Homo sapiens: one gene and its partners. The protein of the gene in region 1 purifies or fractionates together with the protein of each later gene. This does not show direct contact. Each region holds a gene or a part of one and is shown in the gene's direction. Other genes may lie near its edges.

Region 1 (3,825 bases):
CTCCGGGGGTCCTAGATCATTTTTAAGAGTATAAGGAGTACTGAAACCAAAAAGTTGGACAACTTCTGCCATAAAGTAACATTAATGCTTCTGATTTGTTAGTAATTGTTCCTACTGCTAGTCAAGGGGCCAGTTTCCTCTTTATCCACTAGACGTTCTATATTTATCATGTGGTTAACCTGCAAACGATGATTATGTTGTTAACTGGATTTATACACACATAAGGAACAGTTTATGGTTCTAAGCAACACTGTGACGTACTGGGTTTTTAGCAAGCATTTTTTAGAAAACACTTTCTCGGTGTAATTTATAAAGTTATATAAAATTTGTCAATACCTGCTTTGTTGCAGCGTGTCTTAAAAATTTCAAAAAATGTTGGCCTCTCTTTGGATCCAATAGGCATTTTTACCTACGATATTCCTCCAATGCTTGGTAAATAAGTCTGCAAAACAGAAGACCAAAATGCACTTACACAGGGATGCATTCCTTATTATGTGACTGAGGTAAAACTCAGAAGCGCTGGAAAATTTGTTTGAATTCTAATTCAGTCCCATCTCCTGGAACGGTAACAGCTTACTGTGAGGATGGGAACATTTTACAGCTGTGCTGTCCAAACCGGTGCCACTAGCCACATTAAGCACTCGAAACGTGGCTAGTGCGACTAGAGAAGAGGATTTTCATACGATTTAGTTTCAATCACGCTAACCAGTGACGCGTGGCTAGTGGGGACAGAGGGCTCCAGTTAGAGACCAACGCCGCCTGGTAATTCCCATCAGCATGTCTTCGGAATACAGCAATTACCAGGGGCTTAAGTAAGGCAAATACAGCGTGCCCAGCAGCTGTAAAACACTTCCCCAAAACAGCAATATTCCGTTAAAGTGATCGTGTTTCCAAGAAATTTCAGATGGCGTCATCTGGGACAGCTGGGAGGGAAGTTAAGTCTTGAGCTGAAGGCGGAGCCCAAAGGCCGGGCCGGAGGCGGGAAATGGAGACCCAGGGAAGGGGCGGGGCTCGAATTTGCTTGGCGAAAATCTGCCTTCGGGCAAGGACCTTTCTCTCAGGCATGGGTGGGGGTTGGCAGAGACAAAAGGGCAAGAAGCCGCGGCAGCGACCCGGGGCGTGAGGCGCTCCCCCGCCACGCTGGACTGGGACTGCGGAAGACGCGCTCGTCCCAACCCACTACCACCACCACTAACCCGCTCCAGAGGTGCAGTTCTTTTTTGGCCGGAGTAAGCTGACAAAAACCGCGCCGGTCACAAATCTGTCCCCTCACGCTTCTCCCGGCGGCGACCCACCGCCGCAAAAGACACCCGAGGCGCAGCAGAGGCGCAGCAGTGCCACAGCGGCTCCGCCTCTGCCGCCTAGTTTCAGAAGCTCGCGCCACAAGCCCGCGCTGGCCACGTGACGCCGTGACGCGACACGCAGCACACGCACCACCCGGAAGTCAGGCCTGGGTGGGCCGCTGCGGGTATTTCTCAGTGTGGCGAAAGGAAATTCCTTGTCAGGCATCCCAACCGTCAGTATCTGACCGAATAAAGCGGGAGCTGGAGTGTGTGTTCTCTTCTCGCTGACCCTTAAGAGTCCCAGGCCACCCTGCTTGGAGGGGCCGCCCCTATGCCTACTCCAAGTCCCCCATCCCTTTCTTTTTGCTCCAGCTCATGTTTGGGTGGGCGCCCTCGGGACACGACCTGGGACCTATGAAATACCTTTGTTCTGACCTTAAAAGGGATGTTCTCTCAAGACCTGTTCCCCAAAGCGAGCCGATCTTACAAAAGCTTAGAGTGGTCGGTGTGTGGTTGTGGATGACTTCACTTAGTGGTAGTGGGCGGGGCTGTTATTTGAAATCAGAGGATTTTAGTTCCAGTAGCTGTTCTGCTATTGGGTAGCAGGTGTTCAAGACCTCCGAGCCCGTTTCCTTGCTTGAAAAATTGTGAAACCCATCTTAACTCGCTCATGAAGTGTGAGGTACCTTGCTCCGCAGGGCTTGGTAGTATCTTTTGCTTTTTTTTTTGAGACGGAGTTTCGCTCTTGTGGCCCGGGCTGGTGTGCAATGGCGCAATCTCCGCTCACCGCAACTTCCGCCTCCAGGGATCAAGTGGTTCTCCTGCCTCAGCCTCCCGAGTAGCTGGGAATACAGGCATGGGCCACCACGCACGGCTAACTTTGCATTTTTAAGTAGAGACGGGGTTTCTCCGTTGTTGGTCAGTCTGGTCTCAACCTCCCGACCTCAGGTGATCTGCCTGCCTCGGCCTCCCAAAGCGCTGGGATTACAGGCATGAGCCACCACACCCGGCCCATCTTTTGCATTCTTAGGATTCGGATCACCTGTCTTCCTCGCAGGCTGAACTGGAAGACCTGACTTCATCTCCGAATTCGTTGGTTCTGTAACATGCCTAATACAAGGCTGAATAGGGTTTGTTGTAAGACCTACAAAACCTTCAAATGGATTCAGTGAGAGTTGCTCCCATGGGGGCCTTGCTGCTTCCAGAAGGTGCTTGAGCAGTAAACAGAAGCAACCTTGGATTAGGAAAAGGGTGGGCTCCGCTTGGTTCCTTAGGGACCATTTTAGTTTGATAATCAGTAATCCTTAGTTGTAGAAGGAGGCCTTACTAATGCAGATAGATTCTAAAGCTTTTGCTCTAAGTCTAATTCGCAAAGAAATACGTCTGTGATCCTTACTAATAACAGCTGCCACTTACCAAACATTTTATGAGTTAGGCATTCTGCTTTGGGTTTTCAAGCAATACCATGTTTAATCTTACAGTAATCCTGTAAATTGGTCAGTATTGTCAGATGAGGATACTGAATCAAGTAGTTAAGTAATGTGCCTGGTAGTAAGGCCCAGGTTTGAATTCTAGTCCATTTGACTTCATACACTTAACTAACCTGTGATTTATTTACCCTATAAATCAGAACAATATGCTTTGTCCCCTTTTTGTGGGGGAGGGGTGTCTCACTAGGAGTGGACTAATGAGAACCCGTGGCATGTCACACAAGTCTCAGAAATAACATTTTCTGTCATTTTATACAGCCCCCCATACCTTTATGTTTCTTGTTCTCTTTGTACCAGGGACTTGCAACTTATTAGCTCCACCATAATAGACTTTCTCACCTATTCTCTTCTAGTGCAGCTGCTCAATTTACTATTTGTATTCAATTTACAATATGCTTTAATTTTTCTTAAAAACATTATTTCCAGCTGGGCATGGTGGCTCACGCCTGTAATCACAGCACTTTGGGAGGCCAAGGTGGGCAGATCACCTGAGGTCAGGAGTTCGAGACCAGCCTGGCCAACATGGCAAAACCCTGTCTCTACTAAAAATACAAAAATTAACTGGGTGTGGTGGCATGTGCCTGTAATCCCAGCTACTTGGGAGGCTGAGGTGGGAGAATCACTTGAACCCCAGAGGCGGAAGTTGCAGTGAGCCGAAATCATGCCACTGCACTCCTGCCTGGGAGACAGAGCAAGGAAACTCCATTTCAAACAAGCAAACAAACAAAAACCCAAAAAACCATTATTTCCTAAAAGTTGTATATATTTAATGTGCACAACATGTATATGTACACAGTGAGATGATTACTATAGTCAAGCAATTAACATATCCATCTGTTCACATAATTACCTTTCTTTTGTGTGCGGTGAGAGCACCTGAAATTTCTCTTTGAAACTTTTCAGTATAAAATACAGTATTGTTAACTGTAGTCGTTATGCTGTAAATTAGATCTCTAGACTCATTCATTCTACCTAACTGTAACATTTTAGGCTCTGACCAGTCTCTCTCCATTCCCCCCAACTTCCTGTCCCTGGTAACCACCATTCTACTT
Region 2 (3,500 bases), on another chromosome or scaffold:
AAGGGCAGGAGATAAAAGATGGAAGAAAATTTGTTTTTTATCCACTTAGAGTTTTATCTTTAATGATGGGAAACAGTGCTGCTCTCAGGAAACTCAGTGTGGAGATCTAGGAGTTCACGGTTCATAGTCCATTAGGAGCAGGAAAAGGATAGAGGACATTTATAAAGTAACATCCAAGTCCAAAGTAAAATGGTATAAATTGTTTCCCATGATAAAGGCTGGCTGAGTAGGTCAGGAAAGGTCTTGTCAGACCATATGTGCTGTTTCAGGCTGCTTCAAATTCTTTTAGGACAGTGGTGGATATGAGTGAAGACGGGGCAGGCAGGCCACATCTCTTAGAAGAGGAAGGTGATTGCCACGTCTCCTTCCTCCATGCTGATGGCAAGGCGTGCGGGCTGTGTTCTCTTGCAGCCAGCGTCCCATGCTCGGTGGCCCCAGAAAAGTCAGTGTGTAGGCCTCAGCCACTTCAGGTCCGGCGTACATTCTCCCTGGACACCATCCTCAGCTCCTACCTTCTGGGCCAGTGGCCACGAGATGCTGATGGGGCCTTCACCTGCTGCACCAATGACAAGGCCACCCAGGTAATGAAGCTCTCTCCTGATGGGATAAGGGATAAGGATGGGGCGGGAGAGCTGGCTGAGGAGGCCTTTGGTCTTCCTCAAGTCATTGCGATGATTTGTCTTGGGTTTTGGTCGTACATATTATCCATGTAATGTTTTATCTTCTTAAGACAGAGTTTCCTTTTGTCACCCAGGCTGGAGTGCAGTGGTGCGATCTTGGCTCACTGCAACCTCTGCCTCCCGGGTTCAAGTGATTCTCGTGCCTCATCCTCCCAAGTGGCTGGGATTACAGGTGCCTGCTACCACGCCCTGCTAATTTACCACCGTTTTTCTTTGTAAACTTATATGGAAATGAGTTTGCATTCCACCTGCCTGGTGGAAGAGAGAAGTCAATCTGGGTTTTTCAGTTTAGCTTTGAGTATTTGTGTCGGGGTAATCAACAGCTGACTTTAGAGTTTATTCTAGCTTTTTAAAAAATGAGATTTAGGCTGGGCGCAGTGGCTCACGCCTATAATCTCAGCACTTTTGGAGGCCTAGGCAGGCGGATCACCTGAGGTCAAGAGTTTGAAACCAGCCTGGCTAACATGGTGAAACCCCGTCTCTACTAAAAATACAAAAATTAGCTGGGCGTGGTGGTGGGTGCCTGCAGTCCCAGCTACTTGGGAGGCTGAGGCGGGAGAATCGCTTGAACCTTGGAGGGAGAGGTTGCAGTGAGCTGAGATCACGCCATTGCATTCCATCCTGGGTGACAGAGCAAGACTCCATCTCAAAAAAATAAAAAAAATAAAAAATGAGATTTACCTTGCTAAAATTAAACCAAGGCCAACATTCTATTGAGTTTGTATTTCCCAAAGAAGTGGCCAAAAAGTATGCTGAGCCAGAATAGATCCCACTGGAGCCATAGGAATGGGAAGTTCTCAGATAATGGAGAATTCTTCCTTGCCAGCAGCCCCGACTGGGATTTCAGTGTACCCATTCAAGGACTGGGGAGCCAGCTTCCTCTCCTTCAGTATTTTCATTAAGACAGTCTTTTCATTAAGAATCCCAAGCTCGGAAAGAATCTCTGCAGATCATCCAGTTCATTTACCAATTTTTGGATAAGCTAGCACGAACGTATCTCATATGTGAAATTATACAGACATTTCTTAATCTGATTCAGGACTTCATTCTTAGCAGCTAAGTTGTTAAGAGTCAAATCTCCCTTTTGATGCAGTTTAAACGCACTCTTGTTCATCTTCAGAGCAAATGAGTTATTTCGAGATAGGCAGAAACAGGGTGGCTAGGACATGAGGGTCCGAGTCAGCCCTTCACCCTGGGGGACATTGGGCAAGTCAGCTCTTCCTTTGCAAACTGGGTGGAGAGTGCGTGGTCTGCCTCTGTGTAGGTGGCATGATGGCCAAATGACACATGAAAGTGCTTGGTACCTCTTCTGACCACATCATGTCAGTTTCTTTCCTTTATTTATTTTGTTAATGCGATCCATTTTCAAATGTTGTTAGTGAATGTTTGAATGCCCAGTACTGTTCTTGGCATGTTGGAATGAAGAATAAGGAAATGAGGACAAGATTTGGCCTCCATGAGTCTGGATTCCAGTTCTATGAGGGCCAGTAAACAGACAGCCAAGGGATGAGATGGAGCCAAATATCTGGCAAAGTTTAAAGAAGGGGAATTCTCATGGGAATACCCCACCTTGAATCAACAAGAATTTGCTGCAGTTAAAATCATGGCCCTCTTTGGATCTACAAATAGACTGTGAAAGGAGAATACCCTCCAGGAAGGAGAGAGAGTAGGCTTCCTTCCTGGGAGCCCTGGGCACTGCCATTCCCTTTATCCTTTGGAAAAGGCAAGTAGGATAAATTATGCTTCCTCCTCACAGGCCTGGGAGCACACATAACTTTGTCTTTTGATAGGAGTGCTTAGTTCAAATATGTTTGTAGTCAAGGAGGGCTTCCTGGAGGAACAGGACTTGAGATTCCTTTGAGTGTGTAAGCTCATTATTGCATCCCTGTTTGTCAGATGGCAGGCTTCTGTGTAGCCCACCTATTTCTGCCTCTGTCATTTCCTGCTTTCAGCCTTCTAGGAAGTCACCATCCCACTCCTCAGATAGCTTTCTCTTTGTCAACTGAAGGCAGGGTTGGCCTCAGATGTTCCCTGGCTGAGTTTAGAGGCATGGGCCCTAGGCTGTGTGTTTTTGCTCAGGCTCCAGCTGTAGGCCAGATCTTTTATATAACAAGTCTGGGCTTCTTGCCACAGCAAGACAGAGGTCAGCGATGAGCCTCCGTGGGTCTGGCAAGGCCAAGCCATGCAGCTTTCCTCTTTCCCTGGGATGGGCTCCAGCCCTCGAGGAACTCTTAGCAACCTGTCAATATTGTGGCCGCAGTCAGGAGGTGGAGAATGCTGATCAACCTAGGCATCCAAACCAAAATATGCACTCTACCCATCTTTCATTCCTGGTCTTCTGGGAATTTGCTGCTTCTAGGTTTTGGGCTCCATTCAAATTCCTGCTTAAGCCCCCGGGCCTGGTCCAAGCTACCCTCTTCAACACTGGTATTACACTGTGGAGGTCTGAGGCTCACCTGACATATTCCTAAGTAACTGGTGTTCCTTTCCTATTGAGTACTGGGATATCACCCAGAAAGGACTGGAGAGGAAGGAGAGGTTTGACTGGGAAGACATGAAGGTGTCTGGAGAGGGGAAGAGGGAAGGGAGGGTGGCAGGATCTACCAAAGTCCTTGAAAGCTTTTAAGCTGTTAAAAATGGACTAATATGGCCAGGCATGGTGGCTCACGCCTGTAATCCCAGCACTTTGGGAGGCCGAGGTGGGCAGATCACAAGGTCAGGAGGTCGAGACCATCCTGGCCAACATGGTGAAACCCCATCTCTACTAAAAATACAAAAATTAGCTGGGCATGGTGACTCACATCTGTAGTCCCAGCTACT
Region 3 (3,725 bases), on another chromosome or scaffold:
TCCTTGGAATGGCCAGAAGCCTAGGAAATATTTCTCTGTTTTGTTGGCCCTCAGGTCCCAATGCCATTTCGGTGAGCCTGTCCCCAATGGGCAGATATGTAATGGTGGGCTTGGCCTCACGAAGGATCCTGCTGCACCCCTCCACAGAGCACATGGTGGCCCAGGTCTTCAGGCTGCAACAGGCCCATGGTGGAGAGACCTCCATGAGGGTGAGTGCCATTGCTTGTGCCTTCACTGTATGGCAGCTCCCCTAGGCTTGGAAGGGTAATGAGGGGACAGTGGTGTGACCTCCCAGCCAGGACCAGAGCTATCACACAGTCATAAGGAGTAAGGAAGGGCTGTAGTCAAGCCCATCCATGACCAGCAGGCTTCATTTGTGGAAGCTCTGGACTATCAAAGGCCTTTCCTCACACCCTAGAATATGTGCTGCATTCCCCAGAGGCCTGCAAGTATCTTCAGATAAACTGAATACTTCCTTACTTCTACGTGAAACTTTTAATCTGGAGATGCATAAAGGACCCAATGAAATGCTTATTTTTAAAGCTTTTTGTGTGTGTGTGTGAGGGAACAAGCTGTAAAAAGTAATAGTATGCCATGAAATGTTTTTTTTCTGTGGGTTATAATTATGATGGAAGATGAAGACTTTAGGCAGTTGCTGTATTCTTAATCATCCCATTCATTTCACCAGTGGAGAAAAGGTCCTGTCTAGGACCCTGTCTTGTCTAAGGCACGTCTCTCTTATATTGCCATAAAAGCCTTCTGGGCATCCTGTGGTTCGTGGCCTTTTGGCCTCAGCCAGACTAACGTGCCTGAGTGAACGTCCCACGTCCCATAGGTGCTCATTTAGCCAGGGTTTTGTCAAGGGGATTCAAGCATTTGAACAGTTCTCTAATTAGATAGTATTCAAGCTTTGTCAGAATCCAAGAACCTGTGAATTTCCTTAGTACTTTGTGCAATCTGTACCATTTATAGTTGGATGTACTTGTTGGTCCATTTTTTGTCTTCTTTAGCTGTGTAGCGTATGTGTTTAATCCACCCAATTCGGTTCAGTGTAAGCTCCTTAGAGGGATATCCCTCAGGTCCCTCATTTAGTGCTGTGCATGTAGATGGCTGTTGAATATCTGGAATGGGAAGCATTTGTTTTAAATAAAAAAACTAGAGATAGCACCCATTATATACAAAGTGATAGAAAGTGGGTGGCCTGGTGTGGTCCTTTCCTCTCCAGCCTCTTCTCCCTCCTGTCTCCTACAGATATCCTCTGTCCAACTACACTGAGCCACTTTTCAAGCTTCTTGAATTTGTCAAAGTGCCTTCTTGCCAGGGTACCTTTACTTGGAATGCCCTCCTGTCCCCTATCTCCAGCTACCTGCAAGCTTTTTACTTTCTGTGGCATCCATCTTAATAGAATTGATCACTCGTTCCTTGTGCTATCATTGTACCTCTTACACATTCTCATGTCAGTACTTGTCACACCAAACTGCAGTTATTTGTTTCCATGTCACTCTCTTCTCCTGGGCTGTGAGCTCCTTGAGAATAGAGACTGTGTCTGTTTTATCTTTATGAAGTCCAAGAACTTCATGCGGAACCTGACACTTAGTAGAAAGTGAATGAATGAATGAAAGAGAATCTCAAAAAAAAATAAATAAATAAAAATAAAGCATCCTCTTTATCATTTCTAGGTGGTAACTAGCAGAACCAATGATGGGTAACATAACATCATGTCCCACCAAGCTTCTGAAAGGAAAACAAGTCATTCTGTCCTCTTGATATCACAATGACAAGAAAGTTCTGATCTTGAATTCCATATGGCTGGAAATATTTGACATTGGGTGAATAGGAGATGTCATTGTGGGATGTTCATCAAGTCTATTTTCTTATCTAGATATTTGAGGATGGAAGTTGAGTTTTCATTTAAATATTCTTCTTTTGCTTCTCTTAAGCAGAAGCTGGTCTCTGCTTTTCACCACCTGGAATCCCAGTCCCAACAGCTGCTCTTCTAACCCTTCCGGCCTAATTGTGGAATAATCGTTTAAATCATTAAGAGACAGAATCTGATGTTGGTAGCTCTGACAGACCTCTCTAGCTTCTTTCATAAGCCAGGGCTCTTGCCCAGCTCCTGCACACAGCCTGCCAGTTCTCCATCTTAGCACAGTTCCACTTTTCCATAGTAGCCAGAAACATCTGGCTGAAGACAAACAGTTACAAAGCAGAAGCCAAGGTGATGGGATCTGTTGTCACATATGGGGCTGGCAGCTCAAGGAATGTGGTTCTCTGCTGAGGAGATGTGGTAATCCAGTCAGCCCCTGGCTGTCCTGCCAAGGGTCTCAAGGCAGCTAGCCAGCAGCTGCATGCTTGGTGACTGGAGCTACTACTACTGCCAGGCTGCCTGGTGAACCTTTTTTGATTCTCAGTAGGTACCATCTGCCACCAAGCACTAAGAAAGGGAGCTGAAGTACCTAGAAAGTTCCCATTTGGGAAGTGTTCCTGTCACCCAAGAGACAGGATCAAGGCATCTCAACAAGGTTTAGGTCAACCAAGTGTCCACCCAGTCTGACTTTAAACCCCCATGCTACAGAAAGGTTTCTGGTTTTCCAGGTCTTGGTTGCCCCTTACGTCCAAAGGCACCAGATCACTCAGCAAATGTCCCTGAATTCAGTGATTGGTGGAAGGGAAGACACCAGCTTTTTTGGATAGCTGTGCTGTATCACCGTTTAAGGCAAGAAGTGAATTTTTGTCTGAGAACAGGGAGCAAGGGTTTAATGGGACAGTACAGCATCTCCCTCTTTGCACAGGTAAGTATAGGTGGGTGTCTCCATCTCTAATGTCAAGCTCTGACCATAAAGGAATGCTTTAGTGGGTAATGGGCCTGTCCTAGAGCTTTGCTACCCAGAATTCCCCTTCTGTCTGGTGTTACCTCTTGGAATTCACTGTGGTAATGTTCAGAGAGGCAAATGTGTTGGGCCAACAGACATTCCCAGGAGAACATCCTCCAGAGCATTGATTTATTTTAAGATGGCACTAAGTGACATCTCTCCCCAAGAGATGATCTCTGACACAATCCCATATGAAAACTCTTCTGAAAATGAATTGCTAATTGCTATTAGCCTTGATGCACTTACTCTAAGCAGTTCTTCAGACTTCTGGATCAGTGCTTCTCAAACTGTGGTTCTTGGACAACTTACAGTAGAACTACATGGGTCCTTATTAAAATACAGATCCATTTCAGACCTAAAATCAGAATAAGAATGGGAGTCAGAGGGACCCAGGATTAGTATTTTTAAAACAAGATTTCTTCATTTTAGGTGTCTGCCCTCAGCCTCCTCAGCAAGGCAGAGTCAGTCTCAGGTCTACTTGCCATTGTGGTTTTGTGCATGGTGCTTTGATTCTTTGCTAATTATGTTGCAGGCACAGTGGTGTTTGTCTTCTGTTTCCTACCAAACTCAGCTTTTTTGGCTGTCTGCGCCTCACCTCCCATCTTTTCTAGGCTGTTGCTGCTTTCCAGGTTTCTCCCTTGAATAGCTGTATGTGCTGGAGTCTTTTCTTTATGTTGAATCATTTTAATTTTTGTCCTTATTTCTAGGATCTAGGGTCCTTTTGATCTTTCCCTTCTCTGTTTATCGTGCTAGTCCTCCCAGTTTTAATGATGGGTAAGTCAGGAAAGTAAGACTGGGCACATATTTTCTCTCTCCCTTCCCACTGTCCATTTGCGATTCCTCCAGACTGGA

The links.
Region 2: the proteins of ZAR1L (region 1) and FAM117A purify together in Homo sapiens (affinity purification with mass spectrometry; one large-scale study listed by BioGRID and IntAct). This does not show direct contact.
Region 3: the proteins of ZAR1L (region 1) and AMBRA1 purify together in Homo sapiens (co-immunoprecipitation; one large-scale study listed by IntAct). This does not show direct contact.

What each region holds. Positions count from the first base shown.
Region 1 is NC_000013.11:32,313,039-32,316,863, reverse strand, and holds the start of ZAR1L (protein ZAR1-like), read left to right. Parts: upstream 1-1,500; 5' UTR 1,501-1,549; intron 1,550-1,718; exon of another isoform or gene 1,719-1,787; intron 1,788-2,313; 5' UTR 2,314-2,534; intron 2,535-3,825. Other genes in the region: BRCA2 (breast cancer type 2 susceptibility protein), read right to left, coding at 337-403. UniProt on the Homo sapiens protein: mRNA-binding protein required for maternal mRNA storage, translation and degradation during oocyte maturation.
Region 2 is NC_000017.11:49,729,632-49,733,131, reverse strand, and holds part of FAM117A (protein FAM117A), read left to right. Parts: intron 1-411; coding exon 412-581; intron 582-3,500.
Region 3 is NC_000011.10:46,429,958-46,433,682, reverse strand, and holds part of AMBRA1 (activating molecule in BECN1-regulated autophagy protein 1), read left to right. Parts: intron 1-54; coding exon 55-209; intron 210-2,595; exon of another isoform or gene 2,596-2,792; intron 2,793-3,725. UniProt on the Homo sapiens protein: Substrate-recognition component of a DCX (DDB1-CUL4-X-box) E3 ubiquitin-protein ligase complex involved in cell cycle control and autophagy.